7 linked regions of the Homo sapiens genome follow. The protein of the gene in region 5 purifies or fractionates together with the protein of the main gene of each other region. This does not show direct contact. Each region holds a gene or a part of one and is shown on either strand. Other genes may lie near its edges.

Region 1 (4,261 bases), on a different chromosome or scaffold from region 5:
TTAAATTCTCTAAGCCTCAGTTTCCTCATGTGTTAAATAGTGCAAAACAAAACCTATTTCATAGCTTTGTTGTGAAGATTGAAATAATGCTTTAAAAACAGGCCGGGTGTAGTGGCTCACACCTGAAATTTCAGCACTTTGGGAGCCAGAGGCAGGAGGATCACTTGAGGCCAGGAGTTCGAGACCAGCCTGGCAACAGACTGGAGGTGGAGCAAGACACCATCTGAACAAAAAATAAAAATAAAAATTAGCTGGGCATGGTGGTTCATGCCTGTAGCCCTATTCATGAGGCTGAGGTGGGATGATTTCTTGAGCCCAGGAGTTTAAGGGTACAGTGAGCTATGATCACACCAGTGCACTACTCCAGCCTGGGTGACAGAGTAAGACTGTCTCCGAAAAAAAAAAAAAAAAAAAAAGCTTAGGTTGGTACATCATGGAGATTTTTTTGTTGTAGTTTTACATCTGTAGACACTGTTACATGGTATGTTTATACATCACAAAGCTCACTACATTTTTCCTAGCTAGACAAAAATCAGTAAGTCTCATACACTGACTACAACATTTCATTATTGCATATTCTATTTAGTTTCTGAATGTCATCACAATTCATTTCTATTTTATGTAATCATTAGCTTGTGTAATATTGGTCCAGCAAGAATCTAATAATGATATATAAATGACCTTATGGTATTACTAAATTCTGTACTAAGTAATTTTATTTTCCAGTTATTAAACTCCAATTCAGAAAGAAAATATCTTTAATAGTCATTCCAGAGCAATATAAAATGGAAAATTATAATTGGGTAGCAATTCTGTTATTATACCATAATAGATTTTAAAATTGCATATATTATGCAACACACATTCCGGTTAATGGTATGCCTTTCTAATAAAACAACTCCATTATTGTTGGAACTCAAGAACTTCATTAAAACCACTGGCTATATTTGTAGTAGAAAGCAAAGAAAAAAGAGAGTCCTATAGTGTTTTGATAAATACCTGGATATTTTATTATGGAATTCTCACATTTCATATTTCTTTTCTATGATGCTGTTGTAATCTATGGCCTTTGTCACTCCCATTGCTGCTGTGTACAGCTGTCCAGATTGCGTATTGTACTTCAGCAGGCTCCATTCACATAGAGTACCATGATGAGCCCCTCAGACTTGTAAAGTTCACAACCTGCAAAACTACATGTGGTGTCCCTGACTCCCTATTTACACTCCATAACAGACTCCTTGTATTAAAAACTAGATTTCTGTGATCTCAGCTCTGACTTCAAACGAGATCAAATTTCAAGAATGGCCTGAAATTAGACTACATAGCTCATCTTCAGCATTTTTAGATAGATTCAAATCTTTGGAAATTAACAAGTTAGAGTCCCAGGTGTGTGTCATATGAGACTTTAAACATGTAGCAGACATTTCTAACTTTTGATTATGTATACTTGATGAGAATAGAAGTGGGATTTTGATTATAGCTCAGTTTATACAGCCCGCTTCTGGGTGGCCTCACAAGACCATAGAAACAAGCAGTAGAAAGTATAGCAGATTCTAGAAAGAAAACAGAAAATGTTAAATCAATAAAAAATAAGATTTAAAAAAGTACTCTTAGTTGTGAGTACTTCATAAGTGACTTTTAGTTTTCCCCAGCATACTTTGAGGTGGGCGTTGTGGGCAACCCTGGCCTAAACTAAGAGCCCTGCCTTGGAGTCTGACATTTAGTCATAAGGGAACACAGTTCCGAGCCTTTGGTTTCCTCTGTCTGTCTGCCAGTGACATTTAAAACATCTGTCTAGCAAACTCAACCTGGAATAGTGGGTGTGCATCTGTGCTTTGTAGTACAATTGCAGAGCTTTGTTGTTGTTATAATACAGCTCTGCTTACAGTTTTCATTTCTAACCCCAGATGGAATTCTGACTCTGAGACTGAAAAAGGAACAGAAGCCAGAATTGAGGTTCATGCATTTCTGCATTCGCACATTTTCTTTGTCTTAAGGAGTTCAATTTAACCCCAGGTGCATCAAATTAAAGTTATGTATGTAACACAACTTTATAGTAAGTCCTCCCCAAGTACGAATGAATGTATGTTGAGTAAACATCCCCAAAAGATCCCATTAAGATGTAAACATGAAAGAATGCTCAATACAGCTGTGGTCTCACCATTTGCCTTGTGTTGTACATCTGGCGGAAGCTGGTCAAGAGCATACCACTGATAGTCTGGCTGTGTGGAACAATACAACATTATTATAGCAATATGGACTTCAAATATAGTGGCATGTCAAAAATACAATTAGGCTATGTGGCTTTTATTAAGCAGGCAACACAAAAGTAATTTCTATCCAAACCTATTGCCAACCTCACTCATCCTGCTTACCCCCCATCACTGCCATCATCTCTCCCTACCCCCTCTTAAATCCACTCTGTGTTTGGCCAGAATTTCTACCACTTTGAGGTTGTGACATATTTTCTTTCTTTTTTTGAAACAGATGTGTTTTGAATATCTGCAGAAGTATAAACACTTGTAAAACTTACTACAGCCCATCAATAAAACAAAGCAACTTAGCATCAACAAATACTCTTTTTGAGACCCTCACACTAGAGGCAATGAGAAGGCCAGGAAAAAAAGTTTAATACAAGTTTTCTAATGGTTTAAGGAAGAAATTTAAGCTATTAAATGGGGATTTGGCATTGACAGAAGTTCAGGATGGTGAAGCAGGGCAAATCTTTCCCTTTTTGCTGTTGTGAAGAACCGATCCAGCAGAACCTATCCTCTAAATTGCTCATATAGTTTAGTCTACAGAGACAAGATTTTTCTCTTGGGATTTTCTCCTAGGTTTACACCAGTTAAGAACAGCTAGATATTGAATGTCGAACAAATTGCATTGAATAAATAGTAAACCCATAGGCCTGAATCATCAAGATATCTCCAAGGCCAGCACCTCTGTATTTAACGCTTAGGAATGGAGCAATCTCAGCTTTACCTGCCCACAAAGCAGGTCTGTCTTTCTGCTCTGAATGCTCACCCCTGCCTCCTACTTCTCCACAAGACACAGAGAATATAGATTTTTTTGTTGTTCTGTAATTCAATTATCTCCTAAAAATAACTTGAGGAAAATTTTTCTAACATGAGCCAACAGAGAGCATTTACAAGGCTGCCAGACCACTGAAAGTAGCCCAGAAAGTTCAATTACTCAATAAGACACTGAGAAATGCTGCTTTTAGTGCAGTTTGACCCCACTGTACCCCTACTCTAGACACCTAGGCCCTTGGCTCCTCTGGCTTATGAAAAAGCTAGAAGAGGAAATGAGATCACCTCTGTTTTTTATCTTCTCGTTTATTTTTAGATGTCTCAAATAACACATAGGATAAGTGACGTGAGCCTCAGTTTTATATTCCAGGAGAGTTGCCAAGAGAAGGTAAATATCCTGTAATGTTACCAACACTATAGCATGTGACTTAATTCAGCCTTCGATATAGACAAGAAACATGAAATATTATTTTTAAATTAACTTTGAGGATTTGGTTGTAAACTCTACTGTTATGCTGAGATTTTTTTCATCTGACTACTGCTTGAAAATGTAGGCCATTCTGGCCAGGCGCAGTGGCTCATGCCTGTAATCTCAGCACTTTGGGAGGCCAAGGTGGGCGGATCATGAGGTCAGGAGTTTGAGACCAGCCTGGGCAATATGGTGAAACCCCATCTCCGCTAAAATTACAAAAATTAGCCACGTGTGGTGGTGTGTGCCTGTAGTCCCAGCCAGTCGGGAGGCTGAGGCAGGAGAATTGCCTGAACCCAGGAGGTACAGGTTGCAGTGAGCCAAGATCGCACCACTGCACTACAGCCTGGATGACAGAGCGAGATGCCTTCTCAAAAAAAAAGAAAAAAGAAAAAAAGAAAGAAAATGTAGGCCATTCTACATGGCTTGGAGTCCTTTTTCAAATATAGGCCTTTATTTGGTGACAATTTTATGTGACCTGGACTGCCTTGCCTTTTTTAATTGACATGGACTGTTTGATGAGCTATAGTAGGTGAATTCCTTCCTTCTTTCCATAAAGAAATATTTGACTGAAACAATAATTTGTACTCCTAGGTAAATGTGAATGACTGATTGGTTTTATAGTTAACCTTTCATAAGAATATTTCTCCAATCCCCCAACCTGTAGAAGCCAACTCCTATAGGTTAATTCACTCCTACAGTAAATTTCTCTTTATGTTTCTCACAATCTGAGTTGACTTCTACATTCTTGAAAAAAAAATTT
Region 2 (4,261 bases), on a different chromosome or scaffold from region 5:
GAGGGTTACTTTCATGCAGACTAGATTCCTGGTCCCAACCATGATCCTCCTCTACCTTGACGATTACAAGATCCTCTTCAGGAGTCTGGTCTGGTGGGGATGGGGCTGAAGGCTTTCTTGATTCTTCAGCCATTAGAGCCTGAAAAGCTCAGGAAGTTCGTTTCCACTACCTTCTTTATCTTCTTAAGAGAAGACTCTTCTGAGGGCCTCTTTCTAAGGGTACTTCTTCATGAAGAAAATATGATAGTGTTAAGGCAAGTCAAAAGTCATTGTAACTAACTATGGTATCTTAACAAGTTCCTTAGTATGACACGGACTTCATGGCTCGGCCAATTAAATGATCCTCCCCACTGTTCCAGAAATAACTTCTTACTTCCTTAACTTTCTGTCATGCCAGCCATGCCAAACCCATCCATAGAAAAACCCCTTCCTTCTGCTTTCATCACCCTGTTTGGGGATGTGGAACATGGCTAAGCAAAGTCAGGAAACCATGTAGACTGGGTCTAGTTGAAATTTTGTGTTTAATCTCAGCTGGCCTTCAGGGCTGCTCATTTAACCCCTTTTAGTCTTTGATACACCAGCTGTACTAATCTGGTTCTACACGCTTCAGCTCTCAACCTTTCCCTTACTCTTAACAGATGAGACTAATTTCTACATAATCTAATTCAAGGTATTGTCAAAAACTTTCCTAACACTTTGCTCTTCTCCACCTAACATTCCTTATCCTACCTGTGCCCCTCATCTTTCCTCCTATCTCAAGGTTAACTTCCTCTACTATGGACGTGACCTCCAACTCAGAAACTCTCTATGGAGCACTCCAAGGAACCTGGATGCCCTATTGACAACTACAACCCAAAAGTCTACTCCCACACTCAAAAGGCTACATACTATATGATTTTATTTATGTGAGATTCTGGAGTGGGAATGTTTAAATGTTTATCCATTTCCCAGTTGAACAATATCTGAGTTGTTTTTGTTTTTTAATCACTATGAATAAAGCCACTATGAACATCTGCATGAGTTTTGGTGTGAATATAGTTTTCATTTTATTTGGGCAAATATTCAGAGGTAAAATTGCTGTGTCATAAAATACATATATGTATAACTTTATAAGAAACTGCAAAACTGTTTTCCAATCTGACTAGCACTTGATATTGTTTTTGTTTTTAATTTTAGATATTCTAATAGGTGTATGTGTAGTGGCAACTCATTATGGTTTTAATATCTCATATGGCTTTAGTATGCATTTCTCTACTGACTAATAATGTTGAGCATCTTTTTATGTGCTTATTTAACATCTATATATCTTCTTTAGTGAAGTATTTGTTCAAAACTTCTGCCCATTTTTAAATTTAGTTATTTTAAAATTAAGTTTTGAGTTTCTTACATCCTCTGGACACAAGTCCTTTATGAGATATGTAATTTGCAAGTATTCCCTCTTTTTCATCCTTTTCATAGGGCCTTTTGAAGAAAAAAAGTTCATTTTTTTAATTGACTGTGCTTTTGATGTCATATCTAAGAAATCTTTGCTTAATCCAAGGTTACAAATATTTTCTCCTGTTTTTTACTAAAAGTTTTATAGTTTTAGGTTTTACATTTAGGCCTATGATCCATTTTGAGTTAATTTTTATATAGAATTTGAGGTATGGATGGAGGTTCATTTTAAGGATTCTCCTTTATCTACTTAACTGTCTTTGTATATTTGTCAAATATCAGTTCACTATATGTATGTATATGTAAGGGTCTATTTCTGGAATCTCTGTTCTGTTTATTGACCTATACATCTATTCTTTCACCAATACAGAATAGTCTTGATTGTGTAACTTTTAAAATCTTGAAATCAAGTAGGTGGGTCTTGCAACTTTGTTGTTCGTTTTCAAAATTATTTTCACTTTCCTAGTTCTGTTGTCTTTTGATACACATTTTAGAATCAGTGTATTAATTTCTACAAAAAATTATTGAATTGGATTTGTATTGAATCCATAGCTCATTTTAGGGACAACTGATATCTCAACAACAGTGAGTTTTCCATTCCGTGAACACAATGTGTCTCTCCGTTGAAGTCTTCTTTGACTTCTTTCATCAGTACCGACACTACTTTCTTAAAGGACAAGATAAAATACTGTTGCCTTTAAAAATCCTTTCCTGGTGACTCCAATTGGAAATTATTTTCCTCTCATTCTATACCTCTGTTACTTAAATGTGTATTGCTTTAATGTTACTTTTCCCATAACTGTATATTTATTAGTTCCAAAGGAATTCTGACTTCAAAACTTAATTGTATTTTCCCCATGGGCAAAGGTCCATATCTTTTATCTTATTGATAGAATCGAAGAACATTAGCCATATTTACAATTGCAAACACAGAACATGTTTATATTTCTTGTAAGAGTGAGATTTAGAAACAAGACCTGATGTCCGAAAAAAGTTCAATTTCATGATCCTATTTCTTTGTGAAATATATGTCTATGGTTTCCATCCTTGGTATAGACATCATCTCTTGCCTAGAACTGCAATGGTAACTTTGGTTATGCTTTTTTCCCATTCATGTTCCACAATATTGCCTACTGTGTGTTGAAATGTGTCCCTCAAAAAGATATGCGGACATTCTAACCTCTAGTACCTGTGGATGTGACCTTATTTGGAAATGGGGCTTTGCAGATGTAATCAAGTTAAGATGAAGTTATACTGGAATGGGTAGGCCATTAAACCAATATGACTGGCACACTTTTAAAAGGAAAAAAGACACAGAGACAGACTCTGAGAAAGGAGAAGGTCATGTGAAGACACACACACACAGATGAATGAGAGCTAAGTGACTACAGAAGCAGAGATGGAGTTGTGCAGCTGCAAGCCAAGGAATGCCAAAGTTTGTCAGTAAAAACAAGAAGCTAGAAGAGCATGGGTCTGGCGACACTCTGATTTTGGACATCTAGCCTTCCTAATTATGAGACAGTAAGTGTCTATTCTATTAAACTACCAGGTTTATGATACTTTTTTTTTTTACAGTAGCCCTGTACTGCCAGAGATTTTTTAAAAATATGTAATATGACTAACATGACTCACCTCCTGAAAATATTTCAATAGGGACCAAATTTTTTAGCATGGTATGCAAGGCCCTTTATGAATGTAAACCTGGCTGGCTATATCTACTTTAAACTCACTTACATAAAGCCTTTCTGGGCTGTGGCTTTCTCATACTTCCATTCTACTACAGAGTTCTTTACTCTAGCTCAGTGGTTCAAAACTGATGGCAATATTGTCCTTACCCCCATCCCAGGGACCTTTCATAATGTCTGTAAATATTTTTGTTGTCACAACTTGGGGGTAAGGGGTGCTACTATTATCTTGTACATAGAGGCCAGGGATCCTACAATGCTCAACACAGCCCCCACCACAAAGAATTATTTGGCCCAAAGTGTCAATGCCAAGGTTGATAAATCTTGGTCCAGCTAAAACCATTCAACTCTTTTTTTTTTTGTTTGAGATGGAGTCTTGCTCTGTCGCCCAGGCTGGAGTGCAGTGGCGCGAACTCGGCTCACTGCAACCTCCGCCTCCCGGGTTCACGCCATTCTCCTGCCTCGGCCTCCCGAGTAGCTGGGACTACAGGCGCCCTCCACCACACCCGGCTAATTTTTTGTATTTTTAGTAGAGATGGGGTTTCACTGTGTTAGCCAGGATGGTCTCGATCTCCTGACCTCGTGATCTGCCCGCCTCGGCCTCCCAAAGTGCTGGGATTACAGGCGTAAGCCACTGTGCCCGGCCTAAAATCATTCAACTCTTAACTCTAATTTATCTATTACCTTTTTCATGAGTTCTTCTCTGTCATCCCCCTGCCATTTGTCATTCCTACCAAAGCATTTTTAACATGGTCCAAATATAGGACTTATCACATTGTGAGAATGTGGCCATGGCCTTATTGCAAATGTTTGTTGACAGAGGTGACCATTATCTTTGTATTTCAAAGATACTGTAGAGAATGAAGAAGAGTGTAAGTAAAGGTAGCATACCCTAAACCAGTTGTCATGAGATGCTAACATCAAGATAAAACCAGAGACCTATAGTCCACAAAGAAGAGATAGGTACTTAGGAAAAAAATCAGATTACTGTACATACAGTTCCCCATACGGATCATCAAGGCAGTGCTTATCTTTTCAGTTTTTGGAGTTGTGGCACGGGGCGAGGGGGGTTGGTTTATAGACTCTTCAACCTAAAGAAAACACAGAACTTCTTTCCAGCAAAATGTCCACAGATACAAAAT
Region 3 (4,261 bases), on a different chromosome or scaffold from region 5:
ACAAGCAATAAGCTTATACATAGTTTTCACTTAAAAATATATTATAGGCATGGTTCCATATCAATACAGATTTGCATCATAATTGTTAGACATCTAAGGTTAATACCAATTTACACTTTCACTGGAAACATAAAAGAGTGCTTATTTTCCCACATCTTTACCCATTCTTAATGCTGACGGCTATTAGCATCAATTTTTTAAAATCCTCGCTACTATGATAAAATGATATCTTACTTTTGATTTAATTTGCATGTTTTGATTCCCAATCAGGTTAAACATTGTTAACTGGCAGTTTTCATTTTTCTTTTGTTAATTTTCTGTTCATGTCCTGTGATAATTTTCCCACTATGATGTTCAATTCCTTCCTAAGTTACATTTCACTAATATTAGTAGTTTGCCATATATGTTAAAAATACTAATTCCCAGGCCGGGCACAGTAGCTCACGTCTGTAATCCCAGCACTTTGGGAGGCCGAGCCAGGCGGATCACGAGGTCAGGAGATGGGAGACCATCCTGGCCAACATGGTGAAACCCCGTCTCTACTAAAAATACAAAAATTAGCCAGGCATGGTGGCGCGTGCCTGTAGTCACAGCTACTCAGGAGGCTGAGGCAGAAGAATCGCTTGAACCCAGGAGGTGGAGGTTGCAGTGAGCCAAGACCGCGCCACTGCACTCCATCCTGGGTAACAGAGCAAGACTCCACCTCAAAAAAAAAAAAAAAAAAAAAAACTAATTCCTAGAAGGCCAACAAGTGACTTTTTTTTTTTTTTTTTTTTTGAGAGTCTCAGGCTCTGTCCCCCAGGCTGGAGTGCAGTGGCAAGATCTCGGCTCACTGCAACCTCTGCCTCCCGGGTTCATGCCATTCTCCTGCCTCAGCCTCCCGAGTAGCTGGGACTACAGGCGCGCGCCACCATGCCCGGCTAATTTTTTGTATTTTTAGTAGAGATGGGGTTTCACCATGTTAGCCAGGATGGTCTCCATCTCCTGACCTCGTGATCCACCCGCTTCGGTCTCCCAAAGTGCTGGGATTACAGGCATGAGCCACCGCGCCTGGCCCATCATTTGACTTTTTATGGATTCTGCTATTGCTTTCTGCACAATTATTTTATAATTAATGATATATCCAATTATCATGAAATCATAGGCACTTACATCTCGAAGGGCTCATCTAAATCCTTTTTATAGTTAAGGAACCTGAGGTCCTGGAAACTACAGTTATTTATATATTTATTTAGTTAATGAGCCAAAATGAACCTAGATTTTATGACTCTCAGTTTAGTCCTACCACATAGAAGGTGCTCTAAATCTAGAAACATGATATTTTCCTTGATTAGCCCCAGGTTCCACGATTAGAGGAAGGAGAATGCTTATTCTAAGGAACTGTATGCAGTAAAATGTAAAGATGGAATCATTACTGTGTGTCAAAGCCCAGATCTGGGAACAATGGAAACACACTTTCATATTCTAAAAAGAGGCACCAGACACCCCTCTAGGAGTTACTAAGAGGTAGCCCAAACTGGTTCTGCAACTGAGGCTGTTACCCACGGCCAATCTACAGAAAAGGTTAAAGACTAAGGAAAGAGAGAGATTTCTTTCAAGAGAGTTTTCATCCTAGTTGGGAATGCAATGCACTACTATCCCCATAAGAGGTAAGGGGTGAAAGGCCATGCTTCTCATCCCCAGTGAGGCAGGCCACAAGAGAATCTCTTGAGAGTTTAAAGAATGCCTACTACTCCAGTTAGATGCTTGCTGACCTGCAAAAACTCAGAGACCCACTCCAAACTGCTATTGAAGTAACGAACAATGGATTTTTAGGAAATCTTGACATGTGTCTCTAAGAGTTGGTAGACAAATGATAGATTCAAACTAAGTGTTCTGCCCTTAGAGCAGAGTGAACTTCTGCTACGGTTTGAATGTGTCCGCCAAAGTTCATGTTTTGTAAACTTAATCCCTAAAGCAACTATGATTAGAGGTGGGATCTTTAAGAGGTGATTAGGTCACAAGGGCTCTGCCCTCATGAATGGATTAATGGTTCTTGATAAAAGGATGAATTTGGCCTCTCCTTCCCCTCCTCCACTCCCTAGTGCTCTCTTGCCCTTCTGCCTTCCACCATGAGATGACAGGGCAAGAAGGCCCTCACCAGATGTAGGCCCCTCCTAACCTCCAGAATCATGAGCTAAATAAATTTCTGTTTATTATAAACATAAAGTGCACATCTGAAGTAAGCAGGCTAGAATGACCAGAACAGGGTCCAGCCTAAGAGAGCTGCCTGATAAAGCACAGGAAGCTCCAAGGTACATGACCAGGAGACACCACTTAGGGCATGATCGTCTATAGATCCTAACCTTTAGGAAAGCAAAACTTTTAAAGAGTTAAAACTGGAAATAACTCAAATGTTTATGAACTGCTGAATGGATAAACAAAGTATATATCCATACATAGAATACTACTCTGTAAATAAAAGGAACAGACTACTGGCTGGGCACAGTGGCTCACGCCTGCAATCCCAGCTCTTTGGGAGGCCAAGGCAGGAGGATCACTTAACCCCCGGGGTTTGAGACCAGCCTAGGCAACCTAATGAGACCCTCGTTTCTACGAAAAATTTTAAAAATTAGCCAGGTGTGATTGTGCATGCCTGTAAGTCCCAGCTACTTGAGAGGCTAAGGTAGGAGGATCGCTTGAGCCTGGGAGGTTGAGGCTGCAGTGAGCCATGTTCACGCCACTGCATTTCAGCCTAGTTGACAGAGCTAGACCCTGTCTCAACAAAAAAGAACAATGAAAAAAACTACAGATACAGGTAACAATATGGATGAATTTCAAAAGTATTAAATAGTGAAACAGTCACACACAAAAGACTACATACTATATGACAAATTAACAAAATTCTAGAAAAAGCAAAAACCATAGTGAAAGAAAGCAGGTTAGTGGTTGGGAAAAGAAAACTGACCATAAAGGAGCACGGAGGTACTTTTTAGGATAATGGAGATACTCTACAACATGATTTTGGTGGTTACATAATTCCAACACTTGTCAAAATTCACAAAATTGTACTCTTACTTAAAATACAAGGGCCGGGCACAGTGGCTCACACCTGTAATCCCAGCACTTTGGGAGGCCCACGCAGGCAGATCACTTGAGGTCAGGAGTTCGAGAGCAGCCTGACCAACATGGTGAAACCCCGTCTCTACTAAAAATACAAAAATTACCCAGGCGTGGTGGCACACACCTGTAATCCCAGCTACTCAGGAGGCTGAGGCACAAGAATTGCTTGAACCCGGGAGACGGAGGTTGCAGTGAGCCGAGATTGTACCACTGCACTTCAGCCTGGGCAACAGAGCAAGACTCCGTCTGAAAATATAATGATAATAAATAAATTAAAATACAGTAAAATAAAGGGGATACATATAATTATATACCCAAGGCTTTAAAAAGATAACTCAAAATGGAAAGCACCTACTTTAAAAAAATCTTGATCACCCTTCAAAATCATTATTGCTAGATGAGAAAAACATAGGTACCTAAAGAAATACAAAATACTATGGATATATGGTTTGGTTGTGTCCCCACCAAAATCTCATCTTGAATTGTAGTTCCCATAATCCCCACATGGGAGGGACCCGATGGAAGGTAATTGAATCATGGGGCGGTTACCCTCCTGCTGTTCTGGTGACAGTGAGTTTTTACAAGATGGTTTTATAAGGGGCTCATCCCCCTCTTTGCTCTCATTCTCTTTCCTACCACCATATGAAGAAGGGCATGTTTGCTTCCCCTTCCACCATGACTGTAAGTTTTCAGAGGCACCCCCAGCCCTGTGAAACTGTGAGCCAATTAAACCTCTTTGCTTTATAAATTACCTAGTCTTGGGTATGTCTCTATTAGCAGCATGAGAATGGACTAATACAGTAAATTGGTACTGCAGAGAGTGGGGTGCTGCTATAAGGATACCCAAAAATGTGGAAGCAACTTTGGAGCTGGGTAACAGGCAGAGGTTGGAACAGTCTGTAGGGCTCAGAAGAAAACAGGAAAATGTGGGAAAGTTTGGAACTTCCTAGAGACTTGTTGAATGGCTTTGACCAAAATGCTGATAGTGATTTGGATAATGAAGTCTAGGCTGCACTGGTCTCAGACAGAGATAATAAACTTTTTAGAACTGAAGCAAAGGTCACTCTTGTTATGGTTTAGCAAAGACACTGGCAACATTCTGCCCCTGCCCCAGAGATCTGTGGAACTTTGACCTTGAGAGGGATGGTTTGAAATTGGA
Region 4 (3,255 bases), on a different chromosome or scaffold from region 5:
GCCACAATCTTCAAAGTAATTCCAGTTAAGCCATTCTTTATTTTACATTTTGAATAACAGGGTAAGCCATAACTCCATGTTAAAGTAATTGAAATGGCCTTTAGCAGATAATAGTGAATATGATAACAAGTATTATTGCATTTAAAAGCAAGTGAGATAGAGTGGAGTGAAAGTATTTTCAACTTTGTGTAAATACAATCAATAAGATTCTGAGTTTTCTCTCTCACAACTAAGGTTACATATCAATAAATAAAATGGTACTGCAAAACCCAATAAACATCATCATAATGTCCTAACATACTATACTGAAGACCTTATTAAGACCCACAAGGCAGTCTTTTAAAAACAATTCCATTACTAAATCAATTTGTCCTAGATCAAAACTACGTTTTGACCAAATTCTATTTTACAAGAAATAATGTAACATTCATTTTAAAATGTCATACTACTCTTTCTCTAAATGCACAATCCTGATACCTTCTAGCTCTAACTGCATCATAAAACACATATCAGAACCTGTATAAATGTACATATTCATGATTGTTTTTCCCTTCAAAGTAGTTACAGCTGATCCTTGAACAATGCAGGGATTAGGGGTGTGGACCCCCAAGCAGTTGAAAATCCATGTATAATTTTTGACTCCCCGAAAACTTAACTACCAATAGTCTACTGTTGACTGAGAAGTCTTACCAATAACATGAATAGTCGATTAACACATAAACAGCCCAGTATCTGTATATATATTTTTATACATTCATGATGTATCTTTTTCTTAATTTTTTTGATATTTCTAGGCTACATGGTTTGTCTATGTTTTTTCAAATTGTTGCAAATCTCCAAAATTTTTCTAGCATATTTCCTAAAAAACAGCATATGAGTGGACCCACATAATTCAAACCCATGTTGTTCAAGGGTCAACTGTACTTATTAGGTTAATTGCTTATTTCAGTGAAACCATCACTACTTAAAACATTTAATGAACTCAGTCACAAATATACTCATAAATTAAAGAGGCCAATTTTCATATGTGGCTCACTAGCTTTAGAAGACATTAAAATGAACATTTTAAGAAATGGTAAGCCAGGGGCGGTGGCTCACACCTGTAATCCCAGCACTTTGGGAGGCAGAGGCGGGCGGATCACCTGAGGTCAGGAGTTTGAGACCAGCCTGACCAACATGGAGAAACCCTGTCTCTACTAAAGATACAAAAAACTTAGCCAGGCGTGGTGGCGGGCGCCTATAATCCCAGCTACTAGGGAGGCTGAGGCAGGAGGATTGCTTGAGCCTGGGAGGCAGAGGTTGCGGTGAGCTGGGATCACGCTATAGCACTCCAGCTGGACGGGCAACAAAGATGAAACGTCTCAAAAAAAAAAAAAAAGAAAGAAAGAAATGGTAGCATCACTGGAATAAATTCATAGCTTTCACTATTTTGAGGGATGACTTTAACTAAATGAGAACGTTTACTTAATATCACGGTGCAAATGCCAAGAGAAATAGGTATAAAATTCTGAAAATTAATACAATTTAAGAAAAAGTCAGCTGGGCATGGTGGTTCATGCCTGTAATCCCAGCACTTTGGGAGGCCAAGGTGGGTGGATCACGAGGTCAAGAGATCGAGACCATCCTGGCCAACATGGTGAAACCCCGTCTCTACTAAAAATACAAAAATTAGCTGGGCGTGGTGGTGCACGCCTGCAGTCCCAGCTAGTCAGGAGGCTGAGGCAGCAGAATTGCTTGAACCCGGGAGGCGGAAGCTGCAGTGAGCCGAGATCGCACCACCACTGCACTCCAGCCTGGCGACAGAGTGAGACTCCGTCTCAAAAAAAAAAAAAAAAAAAAAAAAAAAGAAAAAGTCAGTGTTAGTTCTATTTATAAAGTGGGCAATTCTGAACCCTGAATTATTTATTCTAATATATCCATTAATAGTGTCATTCAGAGACCAAATACTATATAATCATTATATTTTAAAAGTGAAATTCTTACCTCCCAACCAGGCCACACAATTAGCTTTTGCAGGTGGAGTATGAATTCGAAATGTCTTAGTGCCAAGTGCTTTTTTATATTTTGGTTTTTCTACCAAATACCTTATTTCTGCAAGCAATCTGTGGAGAAATCCTGGCAACATAGAAGTGCCACCTATGACTACCAAATTCTCTGCTAGTTGCTTCCTGGTGTCTATCGGACACTGTTATTAAAAAGAAAAAAAGAAGGATTTATTCTGAACTGTACAAATAATGCTTGATTGAACTTAAGAAAATATACATAAATATACTATTATTATACATATTATTATTATACTACAGATTAAACAGGTGATCGTTTGTATCGCAAAAAGGGCCACAGCAAGGTTTCTTTCATGTAGCAAATATAACCACCATAAACATACTGCCAAATATATACATAAACTTTAAAGATTTTAAAATAGTTTAAAGTCTAAAAGCATAGAATTTTACATTCCATAGGGCATATGTGAGTGTTCTCACTGTCAGGGTAGCAATGATTAAGTAGGGCAAAGAGCATGAGAAGAAATAACTTCTCTTTTTTGGGATAAGTGAAATATGTAGAAATTTAATTTTTCTAAGGTGTATTCACAGTGCCAGTTGTTAAGTGGGAAGATAACACTCCTAGAAAAATTATGGTTCTACATCAGTTCTCTTTAAGAGTTAGCGATGATAAGGTCCTTCAATGAATGGAGCCCTAGAGGTAAACATATCTTCCAAGGCAATGGTATTTCATGCGAAGTCCTATAATTACATAGTCATTAAACGAAAGAGACATATTATTACCATATGTCCTGTGGAATTTAAAATTGAATACTATACAACCCTGAATTGGAAGGAACCACAAGCCACACTAGGTACAAAATAAAAATCTGGTCCCTGGTCTTAAAAGAATGCACATGTCACTGGGTTTGGTGGCTCACGCCTGTACAGCCCTTTGGGAGGCCGAGACAGGTGGATTACCTGAGGTCGGGAGTTCAAGACCAGCCTGACCAACATGGAGAAACCCCATCTCTACCAAAAATACAAAATTAGCCAGGCATGGTGGCACATGCCTGTAATCCCAGCTACTCGGGAAGCTGAGGCAGGATACTCACTTGAACCCGGGGGCGGAGGTTGTGCTGAGCTGAGATCATGCCATTGCACTCCAGCCTGGGCAACAAGAGCAACACTGTCAAAAAAAGAGAAAAAAAAGGCCAGGTGCGGTGGCTCACGCTTGTAATCCCAGCACTTTGGGAGGCCGAGGCGGGCGGAT
Region 5 (4,261 bases):
TCCTTCCCCCTTTCCTAACTTTATAAGATAGAAGAAAAGGATGAAAACTGAAAGAAACATATTTATAGTTCTCTAATAGTAAGGAATAAAGCAAAAGGTGGCAAGAATTTGGGAATAAAATTGCCCAGAGGAAGACAGGGAGGAATTTATGAGAATCTGAGTTGGAACTTTGTTAACTGTTGAAAGCAGGGATGGAGAATCTTTAGACCTTAAGGGAAGGAGCTGTAGATCTATTAAAAAACAGTTACAGGCCGAGCGCGGTGGCTCACGCTTGTAATCCCAGCACTTTGGGAGGCCGAGGCGGGCGGATCACCTGAGGTCGGGAGTTCAAGATTAGCCTGACCAACATGGAGAAACCCCTTCTCTACTAAAAATACAATATTAGCCAGGTGTGGTGGTGCATGCCTGTAATCCCAGCTACTCGGGAGGATGAGGCAAGAGAATCGCTAGAACCCGGGAGGCGGAGATTGTGGTGAGCCAAGATCAGGCAATTGCACTCTGGCCTGGGCAACAAGAGCAAAACTCCGTCTCAAAAACAAAAAAACAAAACAAGACATACACACAAAAAAGGTACAAGCAGCCAGGCGCAGTGGTTCATGCCTGTAATCCTAGCATTTTGGGAGGCTGAGGTAGGAGGGCTGCTTGAGGCCAAGAGTTCAAGACCAGTCTGGCCAACATAGCAAGACCCTCTCTCTATATATATTTAAAAAAAAAAAAAAAAAAAAAAGGTACAAGCATATGCATCTCAGAAGTAGAACTTCAACTGTAAATGTAGATACCAATGTCCTACGTAAGGAAATTTTTCCTTCACACACTCTGTCTAGGCTTGTACCCTCAAATTAGAGGAAAAGATACCAGCACTTTATAGAGCCTCACTTGGAAGTTGTATTTCATTGGAATCCTCCTACTTACCCATAGAGAACATTAAGGGACTGGTGACATTGATTGTGTACTCAGTCATCAATGCTGAGATGAATCATAAACCAACTATGTTCTCAACAGTGTTAAAAAGTGGGTAGGAGGGGCCGGGCCGGTGGCTCACACCTGTAATCCCAGCACTACGGGAGGCCGAGGCAGGCAGATCACCTGAAGTTGGGAGTTCGAGACCAGCCTGACCAACACAGAGAAACCCCCTCTACTAAAAAAAAAAAAAAAAAAAAAAAAAAAAAAAAAAAAAAAAACAAAATTAGCCAGGCATGGTGGCACATGCCTGTAATCCTGGCTACTCGGGAGGCTGAGGCAGGAGAATCACTTGAACCCAGGAGGTGGAAGTTGCGGTGAGCCAAGATCGTGCCATTGCACTCCAGCCTGGGAAACAAGAGCGAAGCTCCGTCTCAAAAGAAAAAAAAAAGTGGGTAGAGGGCTGGGCACAGTGGCTCACGCCTGTAATCCCAGCACTTTGGGAGGCCGAGGAGGGTAGATAACTTGAGGTCAGGAGTTTGAGACCAGCCTGGCCCACATAGTGAAACCCTGTCTCTACTAAAAATACAAAAAAATTAGCCAGGTGTGGTGGTGCATGCCTGTAATCCTAGCTACCCGGGAGGCTGAGTCAGGAGAATCACTTGAACTCAGGAGGCGGAGGTTAAGTGAGCCAAGATCGTGCCACTCCACTTCAGCCTGGGTGACTCAGTCTCAAAAAAAAAAGAAGAGTGGGTAGGAGAGGTCACAGGATTTAATTACACTGGATTAGAGCAGGCAAGGTGCTCAGGAAACATGGGGCAACAGTTTACAAGAGAAGAGCCTCAGGCAGGAGAAATCACTAATATAACCTAAGAGGCCTCCAGTCTCTCAATCTTTTCAATCACTTTGCCTTCAAAGTCTGATTATGGGCAGAGATAGGTTCCAAGACTTACATGTCAAAGGTAGAAGGAAGAGAAATGACTGCTCTCAGTGTCTGAGTATATAGCAAGCAGAAAAGGAATAAATACAATAGCTAAAGATTATCAGCTAAGGATGTAGATTAAGTCAAATTCTGCCTTCATTTATTCTACAGAAAACCCCTTATCAATATCAGATTTTTGTAAATAATTCAAATCATAAGCGTTAACAAGCCATCCTAAGGAATAATTGAAAGGTTTTTGTTGTTCTGCTCACCACGAACAATACCTTTATAATGAATAGTAAATGAATGACTTACATCAGATGTGGAAGGGTTATCTGATATGACATACCTGGAAAAATGGAACCCCGCCAATTGATGAACAATCCACACCAGCATCTACAGATGGCTCTTGACTTAGAGGTTCTTCAGTATACTGCCCCAGAACTGCCTCTTCTACATCCACATCCTAAAAGAAGAAACTGGATGAGTGACTAAGTCCAAGGGCTTAAAAGTCATCACAAGAGTAACAGCAGCTTTGAGTATAACACAATGCCCATGGTATAATATAAAAGTTAAACCTCAACAAAATTATTAGAAAGTCTACAAATTAATGAAAATAATTCCTAATATATTTTTATAGAGAGTAGAGGTTCCTATATAACAATGTTACTAAGCACAATATTAAGTATTGGCTATTATTATCTACTAGCATAATTTAAAAACTAGTAAGATTAAAAGAAACAAGCCTAAGGGCTAGGCCTATCATTAATGAGAGGCGGGGTAAGATTGAGGGGTAAACAGTAAAATTCTTCACATGAAGTCAGCCACATCAAGAGTTCATAAAAGAGTTCTATTATAAAATATGATCCTTTAAATTTACCGGAATTGTCTCTTCTTTGTTGTTTTCTGAACAGTTTAGCATCATTAACAGCTCAGGCTGTTTCCTTTTCAGCTGATCAAGGAGATGTTCACGTGGTTCAGTTCTTACCAGTGTTGATGGGTATAAATAACTTTTCCTCTGTGGTGTCGTACCTTTAACGGACATTAGATAAGAGGTAAAAATTAAAGTATGAGATGTAAATATTTTTAAAAAAACCTAAAACTTCCTAATTAATCTTGTCTTCTAAAAATATAAAAATATAATTGCCATATATGAGGATCAGTCTTGCTACCTGTCAGACATTGTTTGCAACTAACAATACTTTCTAATTTGATGACAGACTTTACTGTTTTCAAGATTCATCCTACTCTCTAAAACATGAAGTTTACCATCTCTGAGGATATATAAAAGATGTGTTATAAGCTCTAAAAGGAGTTATAGTGTTCTGAAAAAAATGGCAGCATTATTGGAATGAGTAGATTTCCCAACATGATTACTTTGATAGGAGTAATCATTTCACTATAAATGTGGTGTGGTGGTTAAATATTAACTAGTTATATACATATACTATGTTGCCCAGGCTGGTCTTGAACCCCTGGGCTCAAACGATCCTCCTGCCTTGCCTCCCGAAGTGCTGGGATTATAGGTGTGAGCCACCGCATCAGGCCCCCAGTTATATTTCTCTGTAATAAGCTCATGCTCTCATGATTTACAAAAGTACTTGCCTTTTCACTCAACATTTACATTCCTAACTTCATTGAAAAGTAGACAGTAAATCCTACAGGTCTCTTGGGGAATAAATAAACCAACATTCTATGTAGCACCATCCCCTTTTAACAATTGCTTTTTAAATTAAAAAAAAAAAAGAGTTTTGTGATATAATTTACATACCATAAAACACTCATTTTATGTGTACAATTCAGTGGATTTTAGTGAGTTTACAGGGTGTGCAACCATTACCATAATCCAATGAAGAACCCAATTATTCATGCTGTGTAAAACAGCTTGTTACATCTCTTCCATGAAGACCTCCCTGAATCATTACAGCCTATAATGATCTTTGCCATATGTGATCTCTCAAAATGTTGATTCCTAAATGCTAATGGTCCATGGTGATCCCTGATCTCTTAAAACAGGGATTCCTAAATGGCAATAGTCTATGACAAAATGAGAGGGACACAGAACAAAATGCACAATGTGGTAAACTTTGCATTAAACTAGATTTAGTCAGTTACATCTCTCCCATATTTGTGGTATTAAAATGTCCTTTTACAAACAGTGCTAGGTTTGTATTTGTTTTAAAAAATCCCCTATTAACAAAGTCAACTCCCTGAAAGTATGTGAAATTATACTGAATTGTGATACCACCTGTATCATGACACTTGATTAAAACTATTTTAAGGTTCCAGTTTTCCCATTTTGAGTTGATTACAGTGAGATGTTAAATTTCTGTCAGGCAATGGCAGGACCTAATTTTTCTGAACATCTGACACTACATAGAGTTGAATTCGACTTCAAAAAATTTAACAATTCTATTTCTCTTTTAAAGTACCTGTTGG
Region 6 (4,261 bases), on a different chromosome or scaffold from region 5:
GAGTTCGAGACCAGCGTGGCCTACATGGTGAAACTCCATCTCTATCAAAAATACAAAAATTAGCCGGGCATGATGGCAGGCACCTGTAATCCCAGCTACCCAGGAAGCTGAGGCAGGAGAATCGCTTGAATCCGGGAGGTGGAGGTTGCAGTCAGCCGGATCGTACCACTGCACTCCAACCTGGGTGACAAAGCAAACTATCGGTGGGGGCGGGGAGAAGTTTTATCCCATTTCAGCACCAATGTATAGAAAATCCTGGCAACAGAAACTTATTACTTCCACTCGCATTAAAACTAGTCAAATAACAGCATCATACTGGGTGTGGGAAATGGACCGGTACAAGTCCAGTCCCAGTTCCATAACTTACTCGCCATAAGACAAAACATTTATCCAAATAGTTCTGGTCCCCAGTCTCCTTCAGTATAAAAGAAAGCACTCATGACCTGCTCTGCCCAACCGCAGGGCTGATGTGATCAGTTCTTAATATCATATTTACAATGTGCTTGCCACAAACATAGGGAATTAATATTTCACTATGCTTAAAAGATGAAAATACAAAATTGCTTTTATATTTAAATACTGTATATTAATAGTAACATTTTACAATTGAAACTCTAAAATACAAATATTCTGGACTATGTTACAGGTGAAAAATCAGAACAGGGAACCTTAGTACTGTAATATCCACAAGTCCAAGATTAGTTCAAAGTGATGACTCAATTGTCTTTCGAATGTGCTGACTGATAGCAAAGAGGCAACATAATTTACAGACTTTACCAAAGATAAAAGTATCTACATTGATTTTTTGAAAACACAGTTCAAATGGAGTATCAGCAGCTCACTAGACTTAAACTTTCAAGAAAAACAAGAGGTGACAAAGCTGGAGTCTGAGAATAAACAATCTCCAATGTTTGCTACAAATCAATTCCTCCTAAGGAAGAGGGAAAGTTATCAGCCTCCTGAGCCTAGAATTTAACTCCCAACCGACAGCACCAGCAGATCCAAGCAACACCTCCAAGGCTAAGCAGCAGAAATTAAATGAAACACCTATCTATGAATCAGAAGATTTAATTTAAAACTAGAGACTAAGGAAGGTTATTAGCACCCATTGATCATTTTCTATATACCTGGCACCTGTGTCAGAATAACCCCAGGAGACAAGGTACTACCCCCACCTTCCAGCGTCCTGATGAGCCAACTGGGGAGCAAAGGTAATGAAATTTCACTCAAGGTCACATGGCTAATAGGAAAATCTCAGACATGAACCCAATTTTGCCTGTTAAGTCTGTGCACTCTCTATGACATTACTGCACCAAATGTCCTGGATACCCATTACATTTTTCCAATTCTATAATAAAGTATGTCCCCAGGGTTTCATAATGGATGTCATGGTGGGCAAAATCTAGCTAAATGGTGAAATACCTCTATTTATTATTTGAAATTCAATAAAAACAGGAGGAAGGAGAGAAGAAAAGCAGTCCCTAGCACTGAAGGATGGAGGGCTAATCATTCAAGATCAAAACAACTCACACCATATAAGGAGAAAATAGTTTTCATTTGATTATATATCTACAAGGTTATACATTTTTAAATGTTCAGCCTAATAAGCTGTAACCAGAACTTTCCAACAAAATAGTCTTATCTGCAATATAAAATGGTTTAGGTTTTCTCATAGAAACAGAAATGTAGGATTTTTCTTACCTCCCTTTTCATTAACTGACCCTACTCTTTTAAATTCAAATTAAGAGTAAGTAAATCCCTTTGCAGAGGTGCCATCAAAAACACTATAAAGCAACATCAGAAGGCTGGGCATGGTGGCTTACGCCTGTAATCCCAGCACTTTGGAAGGACAAGGTGGACAGATCGCCTGAGGCCAGGAGATTGCCACCAGCCTGGCCAACATGGGGAAATTCTGTCTCTACCAAAAATACAAAAATTATCCAGGCGCGGTGGCGCATACCTGTAGTGCCAGGTACTCAGAAGGCTATGGCATGAGAATCACTTAAACCTGGGAGGCGGAGGTTGCAGTGAGCCGAGATCACACCACTGTCCTCCAGCCTGTGACACAGCAAGACTCTGTCTCAAAAAAAATCTGAAAGCAAAACAATTTTTTAACCCTTAAACAGAAAATACTTCTTCACAGCATTAAATCAAGTTCAATAACCAGCAAGTCTAGAGAACTATTGAAAAGTTTTACATAAATGCAAAACTACTCTGAAACACAAATCTTATTAGATGTAATGAGAAAAAAGAATCCTAGACTGCAAAGTTATCTGAATTCCTAAGTTGTACATACATTTTTCTCTAAACAGAAAACAGCCCAAGTCCCTAGTCAAAAGAAATTGTCAACTTGCGATTGTCTGCACGAATAGGGAATGTCATAAATCATGAGTGGAATCAATTACGTACATGTATTTGCACATGGGTATGCCAGATGTTCTCAAACTGACTCTTCATAATAAAACAGTAACTCAGAAGCATCAGGAAACTTGGCACCTTCCAGCTCTGATGCTCTGCTCCCAAAGCCATGGCCGTTCAGTCGGACACAAGACTGAGGGTAAACTACCTTCCCTCTGCTTGCTGAGTATGAAACAATGGATGAGGGGGTGAGGGCAAGAGGAGAGGGCAAGGAGCAAGGCACAGAAAAGCAATAAGGAAATTAATACCTGTGGTTTAAAAGACCTTCCAGTAGCTGTGACTATCTGACAAAAGAATTTCAAATTCCCATGCCATCAGAGCTCTAGATGATTTATTCCAGACCACATCTGGGAGAAATAATTATAAAAGTAAAAATGTACCCAGCATCCGAACATTTAGACCCTATCCTTAAGGAGCTTACAAGATGTAGCAAAAATATACTGGAAAAGGTAACTAAAGATTCTCATTGAGAGAAATTAAGAGACGCCAAAGAGTACAGTGCTAAGTATTTTCCTTCTTAATCCTTTTGGTGAGAAGGAAAAGGGTAAGCATGATTAATGACAAGGATGCTTTATATAACCAAGAATGTCAATACAACCTACGTGACCAAACTTTGGTCAAGTCAGCAGGTGGAATTTTTAATGCAAAGCCCAACGTTAACAACCTGGGAGAATATTTCGAACAACACAAACACTTACTAACATCTCCAAAACTGCACTTTTCACAATGATTGGGGTTTCTCTGACTCCTCCAAGAAAAGAGGTCAAATTCTTTTTTTTCTCTTCTACCTCAGTGTTTGGCCCATAGAAAGTGCTCAAAAATGGCTGAGGCTGAGGAAAACCAAACACAGGCCGGGCACAGTGGCTCACGTCTGTAGTCCCAGCACTTTGGGAGGCCAAGGCCGGTGGATCACCTGAGGTCAGGAGTTCGAGACCAGCCTGATCAACATGGTGAAACCCTGTCTCTACTAAAAATAAAAAATGAAGACGGGCGTGGTGGTGCATGCCTGTAATCCCAGCTACTCAGAAAGCTGAGGCAGGAGAATCGCTTGAACCCAGGAGGCGGACACTGCAGTGAGCCAAGATCACGCCACTGCACTCCAGCCTGGGCAACAAGAGCAAAACTCTGTCTCAAAAAAAAAGATAAAAGAAAAAAAAATCAAACATAATATTCTAACAGCAAGGATTTTTACTCATGCTTTTTATTTATCATTTTACATGAAATATAAGCCTAACTATACACTACGTATAAATGACTTGGTTCTGTATGTGGGGCCTAGATTGGGGATCTAATACAACACGTGAATTTTTCTTGGTAGCTAGGTCTTGGCATGGCTCAGCCCTTTTAAATCCATTTCTCATTCTCCAATATCCTTCTACCCTATCCTGACCCACCAGCAAGGAGGACTTCTGCAATCCTCACTTCAATTAAAGCCTGTTGGCTTAGGGTCACAGTAATAAGCAAATATGGTTCAATTCTGTAATTTGATTAACAACGAAATGATTAACAGTATAGCAGTTTACAGTATAATAAAAAATAAGATTTTAACAGTGCAAGGTGACTTAATCAGAATTCTGGGAAATATGACTCAACCACCTTGACACAGAGGTCAGGGGAAGGGGGTAGGTCTATGTTTCAATGTCATCTCAGAAACTGCTCATATCTATGCTGGCTTCTATTTTCATTCCGTAAAGCTAGCCAAGGGAGCTATGTTTTACGAGGACATGCAGTTTCAACTTCGTATCATTCATAGCTAACAATCATGCAAAAATCTACAAAATAAACATTAAGGAAAATAAATTTCTTATTTGTCACTGAACACTGCTGAATACCTCCTATGAAC
Region 7 (4,261 bases), on a different chromosome or scaffold from region 5:
TTCCTTCCATGGGCCTGCTGGGGGTTGCTGGAGCCTGATGGGGTAGTAGGCACTGGGCAAGGTAGTATATAAATAAATGTAAAGGCCAAGAGTTTGTGGCCTATTCATTTTTATAATTCCATATAACCCTGACAGTTTCTTTGTGAGTGGGTAGTATTATCCTCGTTCTGTCATCAGTAAAACTGAGGTTTAGTACAGCAGTGATGTCCTAAAAGTCATAAAATGGCAGAGGCAGGATTTAAATCTGGTTTGCTTAGAAGCCAAAGCCCCATCCCTTCCTTTGTACCCTGTAGTTTACAGTGCCAGAGTCTAGGCCACCTATAGCATGCCAGGCAAGGAGCACCTTCTCTGTGTGACAAGCACCGAGAGCAGCCCTCAATTCCAGGCCTGTTGGCATAGTAAGTGATACAGGTTGGACATTAAGAGCACTGGGCTGGAGGTTGAATGCCTCTGCCTCTGCCACTCCCTTGTTATGTGACCTATCTATGTTTTGATTAACTTCTCAAAGCTTAAGTTTTCTTATCTGCAAAATGAGGACAACAAGAACACTAACTCTATGGCTGTGGTAAGAATAAATGTAATAGTTAAGCACAATGCCTGGCTCATAGGAAATCCTCAGTAAACCTTAGCTATTATAATTGTTATCTCCCAAGGCTATCCAGTGAACAAACATAGCACCTAGAGTTTGACGGAGCCTTGAGCTGATGCTGACACTAGCTGAGAGAAGATCCATGGCAGCTCTAGTCGAGGCCCTGCCCACCAGTGCTAAAACAACTTATATGTAATTTGTCAATGACATCCAATGACCTTCCTTCTTCCCCGATTCTTCGTACCATCATCTGGACCACTCTAAGGGGTACTAGCTGCCCCACCTTCCTCCTTTTAGAGGAGGCTGGCTGAGCCTCTGCAACCCCAAGAAGATGGTGTCACATATAGCAGCTAGGACATGAGCTTTGCAGTGGCAGACCTGGGTTCACATCCCAGCTCCACCACTTTCTCACAAGTGAGCTGGGGCCAGGTGATTAACCTTCCAAGCCTTAGGTTTCCTTTTCAGCAAAATAGAAACGATGATAGTACCTATAATATCTGGAGTTAAGGTGAGGATGAAATGAGACAACACATCTGAAGGGCATAGGCACAGAGTAAGTGCTCAATGGCAAATGACCCATCATCTTTAAGGGAGGGAAATCTCAACCATGTGATGCTGAGTTCCCTGTTTGTACCGTAGGTACATCGAGAAGTCTGCAGAGGAGCTGGACGAGGAAGTAGAGTATGACATGGACGAGGAGGACTACATCTGGCTGGATATCATGAATGAGCGTCGGAAGACAGAGGGTGTAAGTCCCATCCCGCAGGAGATCTTTGAGTACCTAATGGACCGACTGGAGAAGGAGTCGTACTTTGAGAGTCATAATAAAGGCGACCCTAATGCGCTAGTGGACGAGGATGCTGTTTGCTGTATCTGCAATGATGGTGAGTGCCAGAACAGCAATGTCATCCTCTTCTGTGACATGTGCAACCTGGCCGTGCACCAGGAGTGCTACGGTGTCCCCTATATCCCTGAGGGCCAGTGGCTGTGCCGCCGTTGCCTGCAGTCACCCTCTCGTGCTGTGGATTGTGCCCTGTGCCCCAACAAGGGCGGTGCCTTCAAGCAGACAGATGACGGGCGCTGGGCCCATGTGGTGTGTGCCTTGTGGATCCCTGAGGTCTGCTTCGCCAACACGGTCTTCCTAGAGCCTATTGACAGCATTGAGCACATCCCACCAGCTCGCTGGAAGCTCACCTGCTACATTTGCAAACAACGGGGCTCAGGGGCCTGCATCCAGTGCCACAAGGCCAACTGTTACACAGCTTTCCATGTGACATGCGCCCAGCAGGCTGGCCTTTACATGAAGATGGAGCCTGTGCGGGAGACAGGCGCCAACGGCACCTCTTTCAGTGTCCGCAAGACAGCCTACTGCGACATCCACACGCCTCCAGGTTCAGCACGCCGACTGCCTGCCCTGTCCCACAGCGAGGGTGAGGAGGATGAAGATGAGGAGGAGGATGAGGGTAAGGGCTGGAGCTCAGAGAAAGTCAAGAAGGCCAAGGCCAAGTCCCGGATCAAAATGAAGAAGGCACGGAAGATCCTGGCAGAGAAGCGGGCAGCAGCACCTGTGGTGTCAGTGCCCTGCATCCCACCACACAGGTATGTGGGGAGCCGGTGGACAGGCAGATGAGGGAGAAAGGAGCCTCCAGGAGAGGAGCTGGCAGCCTCCTGAGTGGAATGGCAGGGCTGGGCTATCTTCCCAGGAGCTGCATAGAAGTTAAAAAGAACATATTTTCAAAACAGATAGTTGTCTTTAGCAGGTCACCTGACTTTCACATTAAGAGCCAGAAATGTCAGCTTTTATCTGGCATAGCTAACAGGCGTTTTGGAACTGCCCTTCATTTTGATGGTGTGGTTTGTTAAGTTGGGATGGAAGAGGATGGAACTGCCACTGGCAGCAATGGAAAAAATGGTCTGAATATGAAGAAACAAATAGAATGAAAAGCGGGGAAGGGGAAGCTCAAGAAGTTGTGAAGTGGTTACTGCTGCTCATTTGGGCTGTGATGGCCAGGGATTTTTTTAGTTCTCTTGTGCCGTTTATTTGATTTACTATATATTTCTGCTGTACAGTTGTACTTCATTTTAAAACCTTCAAAGGCTCAGTCTCAGTGGGGCTCCCAGGGTCAAATAGTACTCTGGGCTGCAGTGACTAGAGCAGTCTTAGGGGCAGAAGTCCCTGATTGCTGGTGTACAGGGTTAGGGATCTGGTTTAGTGCTGGGAGCTTGGTTTCCTGTCTGCCACGGTACCACTGATGGCACCACTCTTTCTTCCTTGCCTTAAGTCCAGAGTCCCAGGCCTTTTGGACAAGAGATCCTCTCCCTTCATCCCCATTCAGGAACTTTCACTGGCCAGAGACCCTTGCTCTGCTTAAGAGAATCAGGGCCCAACAAGTTTTACTCTTTGTTTCCTGCCTCCCAGGCTTAGTAAAATCACCAACCGCCTGACCATCCAAAGGAAGAGCCAGTTCATGCAGAGGCTGCACAGCTACTGGACACTGAAGCGGCAGTCACGGAATGGGGTCCCATTGCTACGTCGCCTGCAGACACACCTGCAATCTCAGAGGAACTGTGACCAAGTTGGGGTACTGTGTCCAGTTCCCTGTGGGCTCTGGGAACTAGCGCCAGGGGGACGAAAACCAAAATTTGCAACTGTAGTTTCCAGTGTCAGAGGGCTTAGACTCTTTCCTCCTTTAAGCTAGCCCTCAAACCAGGATCAGCATGGAATGTTCAATGAAAAGATGTTGTTCCTATGTGTTTATGTATTCATTCAACAAACACATACCAAGCATTTATTCTGCCAGGCCTTGGGGACACACAGATTGAGGCACTACCAATAAATTACTGTGCTCCCTCTTTTGGCTTGACCTGAGTTTCCTGGGCTCTCTTCTCCCTGTTGACCTTTCCTCTGGCTTTCTAATCATCCTCTGATCTTCGTTTTGCCTCTACAGAGAGATTCTGAGGATAAGAACTGGGCCCTTAAAGAACAGCTCAAGTCCTGGCAGCGGCTCCGGCATGACTTGGAGCGAGCTCGGCTGCTCGTGGAATTGATCCGCAAGCGGGAAAAACTCAAAAGGGAGACGGTGAGTGCTCCTGGGCCAGCCCTATTTTATAAAAGAAAAAACAAAAAATTAGCCAGGCATGGTGGCAGGCGCCTGTAGTCCCAGCTACTCGGGAGGCTGAGGCAGGAGAATGGCGTGAACCTGGGAGGAGGGGTTTGCAGTGAGCCAAGATCGTGCCACTGTACTCCAGCCTGGGCGACAGAGCGAGACTCCGTCTCAAAAAAAAAAAAAAAAAAAAGACCCAGGAGAAGGAATAGCGTGTGTACCCCAGCCAGATAGCAGCAGGGCTGACGCTGGAGTCAGGTCTCCTGGTGCTCGGTGTGCTTTTAGTTCTGCTGGAAGCAGAATGTCACAGGAGCGTATGAACAGAATCCTCAGTTATGTGACATAGGTAGCTGGTGCTGGTAGTTCAAGAAAGGGGGAAGCCAGAATTGTTGGTGCAAGTTTCCCTGGGTGGAGCCTCATAGAAGGTAGACCTGTATGAGTACACCCAGCTGTGAGGGTGGGAAAGAAGGCGGGTTCCCAGGCCAGCTGGGACCATATCCTCAGACCTCTTTGCCACTGAACTGGCCGAGGCCTGGCTGATCAGGCCTTTTTCTATGTTAGATCAAGG

What was found.
Region 1: the proteins of KIF11 (region 5) and TNIP3 purify together in Homo sapiens (co-immunoprecipitation; one large-scale study listed by IntAct). This does not show direct contact.
Region 2: the proteins of KIF11 (region 5) and ZKSCAN8 purify together in Homo sapiens (affinity purification with mass spectrometry; one large-scale study listed by BioGRID and IntAct). This does not show direct contact.
Region 3: the proteins of KIF11 (region 5) and C2orf69 purify together in Homo sapiens (affinity purification with mass spectrometry; one large-scale study listed by BioGRID and IntAct). This does not show direct contact.
Region 4: the proteins of KIF11 (region 5) and ACTR10 purify together in Homo sapiens (affinity purification with mass spectrometry; one large-scale study listed by BioGRID and IntAct). This does not show direct contact.
Region 6: the proteins of KIF11 (region 5) and MTUS1 purify together in Homo sapiens (affinity purification with mass spectrometry; one large-scale study listed by BioGRID and IntAct). This does not show direct contact.
Region 7: the proteins of KIF11 (region 5) and BRPF1 purify together in Homo sapiens (affinity purification with mass spectrometry; one large-scale study listed by BioGRID and IntAct). This does not show direct contact.

The regions. Positions count from the first base shown.
Region 1 is NC_000004.12:121,136,463-121,140,723, forward strand, and holds part of TNIP3 (TNFAIP3-interacting protein 3), read right to left. Parts: intron 2,223-4,261; coding exon 2,162-2,222; intron 224-2,161; coding exon of another isoform or gene 117-223; exon of another isoform or gene 1-116. UniProt on the Homo sapiens protein: Binds to zinc finger protein TNFAIP3 and inhibits NF-kappa-B activation induced by tumor necrosis factor, Toll-like receptor 4 (TLR4), interleukin-1 and 12-O-tetradecanoylphorbol-13-acetate.
Region 2 is NC_000006.12:28,144,280-28,148,540, reverse strand, and holds part of ZKSCAN8 (zinc finger protein with KRAB and SCAN domains 8), read right to left. Parts: intron 4,211-4,261; exon of another isoform or gene 4,117-4,210; intron 226-4,116; 5' UTR 134-225; coding exon 1-133. UniProt on the Homo sapiens protein: May be involved in transcriptional regulation.
Region 3 is NC_000002.12:199,917,470-199,921,730, reverse strand, and holds part of C2orf69 (mitochondrial protein C2orf69 precursor), read right to left. Parts: intron 1-4,261. UniProt on the Homo sapiens protein: May play a role in the respiratory chain.
Region 4 is NC_000014.9:58,230,996-58,234,250, reverse strand, and holds part of ACTR10 (actin-related protein 10), read right to left. Parts: intron 2,186-3,255; coding exon 1,984-2,185; intron 1-1,983. UniProt on the Homo sapiens protein: Part of the dynactin complex that activates the molecular motor dynein for ultra-processive transport along microtubules.
Region 5 is NC_000010.11:92,648,428-92,652,688, reverse strand, and holds part of KIF11 (kinesin-like protein KIF11), read right to left. Parts: coding exon 4,255-4,261; intron 2,855-4,254; coding exon 2,703-2,854; intron 2,289-2,702; coding exon 2,172-2,288; intron 1-2,171. UniProt on the Homo sapiens protein: Motor protein required for establishing a bipolar spindle and thus contributing to chromosome congression during mitosis. Required in non-mitotic cells for transport of secretory proteins from the Golgi complex to the cell surface.
Region 6 is NC_000008.11:17,790,779-17,795,039, forward strand, and holds part of MTUS1 (microtubule-associated tumor suppressor 1), read right to left. Parts: intron 1-4,261. UniProt on the Homo sapiens protein: Cooperates with AGTR2 to inhibit ERK2 activation and cell proliferation. May be required for AGTR2 cell surface expression. Together with PTPN6, induces UBE2V2 expression upon angiotensin-II stimulation.
Region 7 is NC_000003.12:9,737,771-9,742,031, forward strand, and holds part of BRPF1 (peregrin), read left to right. Parts: intron 1-1,228; coding exon 1,229-2,188; intron 2,189-3,008; coding exon 3,009-3,171; intron 3,172-3,537; coding exon 3,538-3,669; intron 3,670-4,254; coding exon 4,255-4,261. UniProt on the Homo sapiens protein: Scaffold subunit of various histone acetyltransferase (HAT) complexes, such as the MOZ/MORF and HBO1 complexes, which have a histone H3 acetyltransferase activity.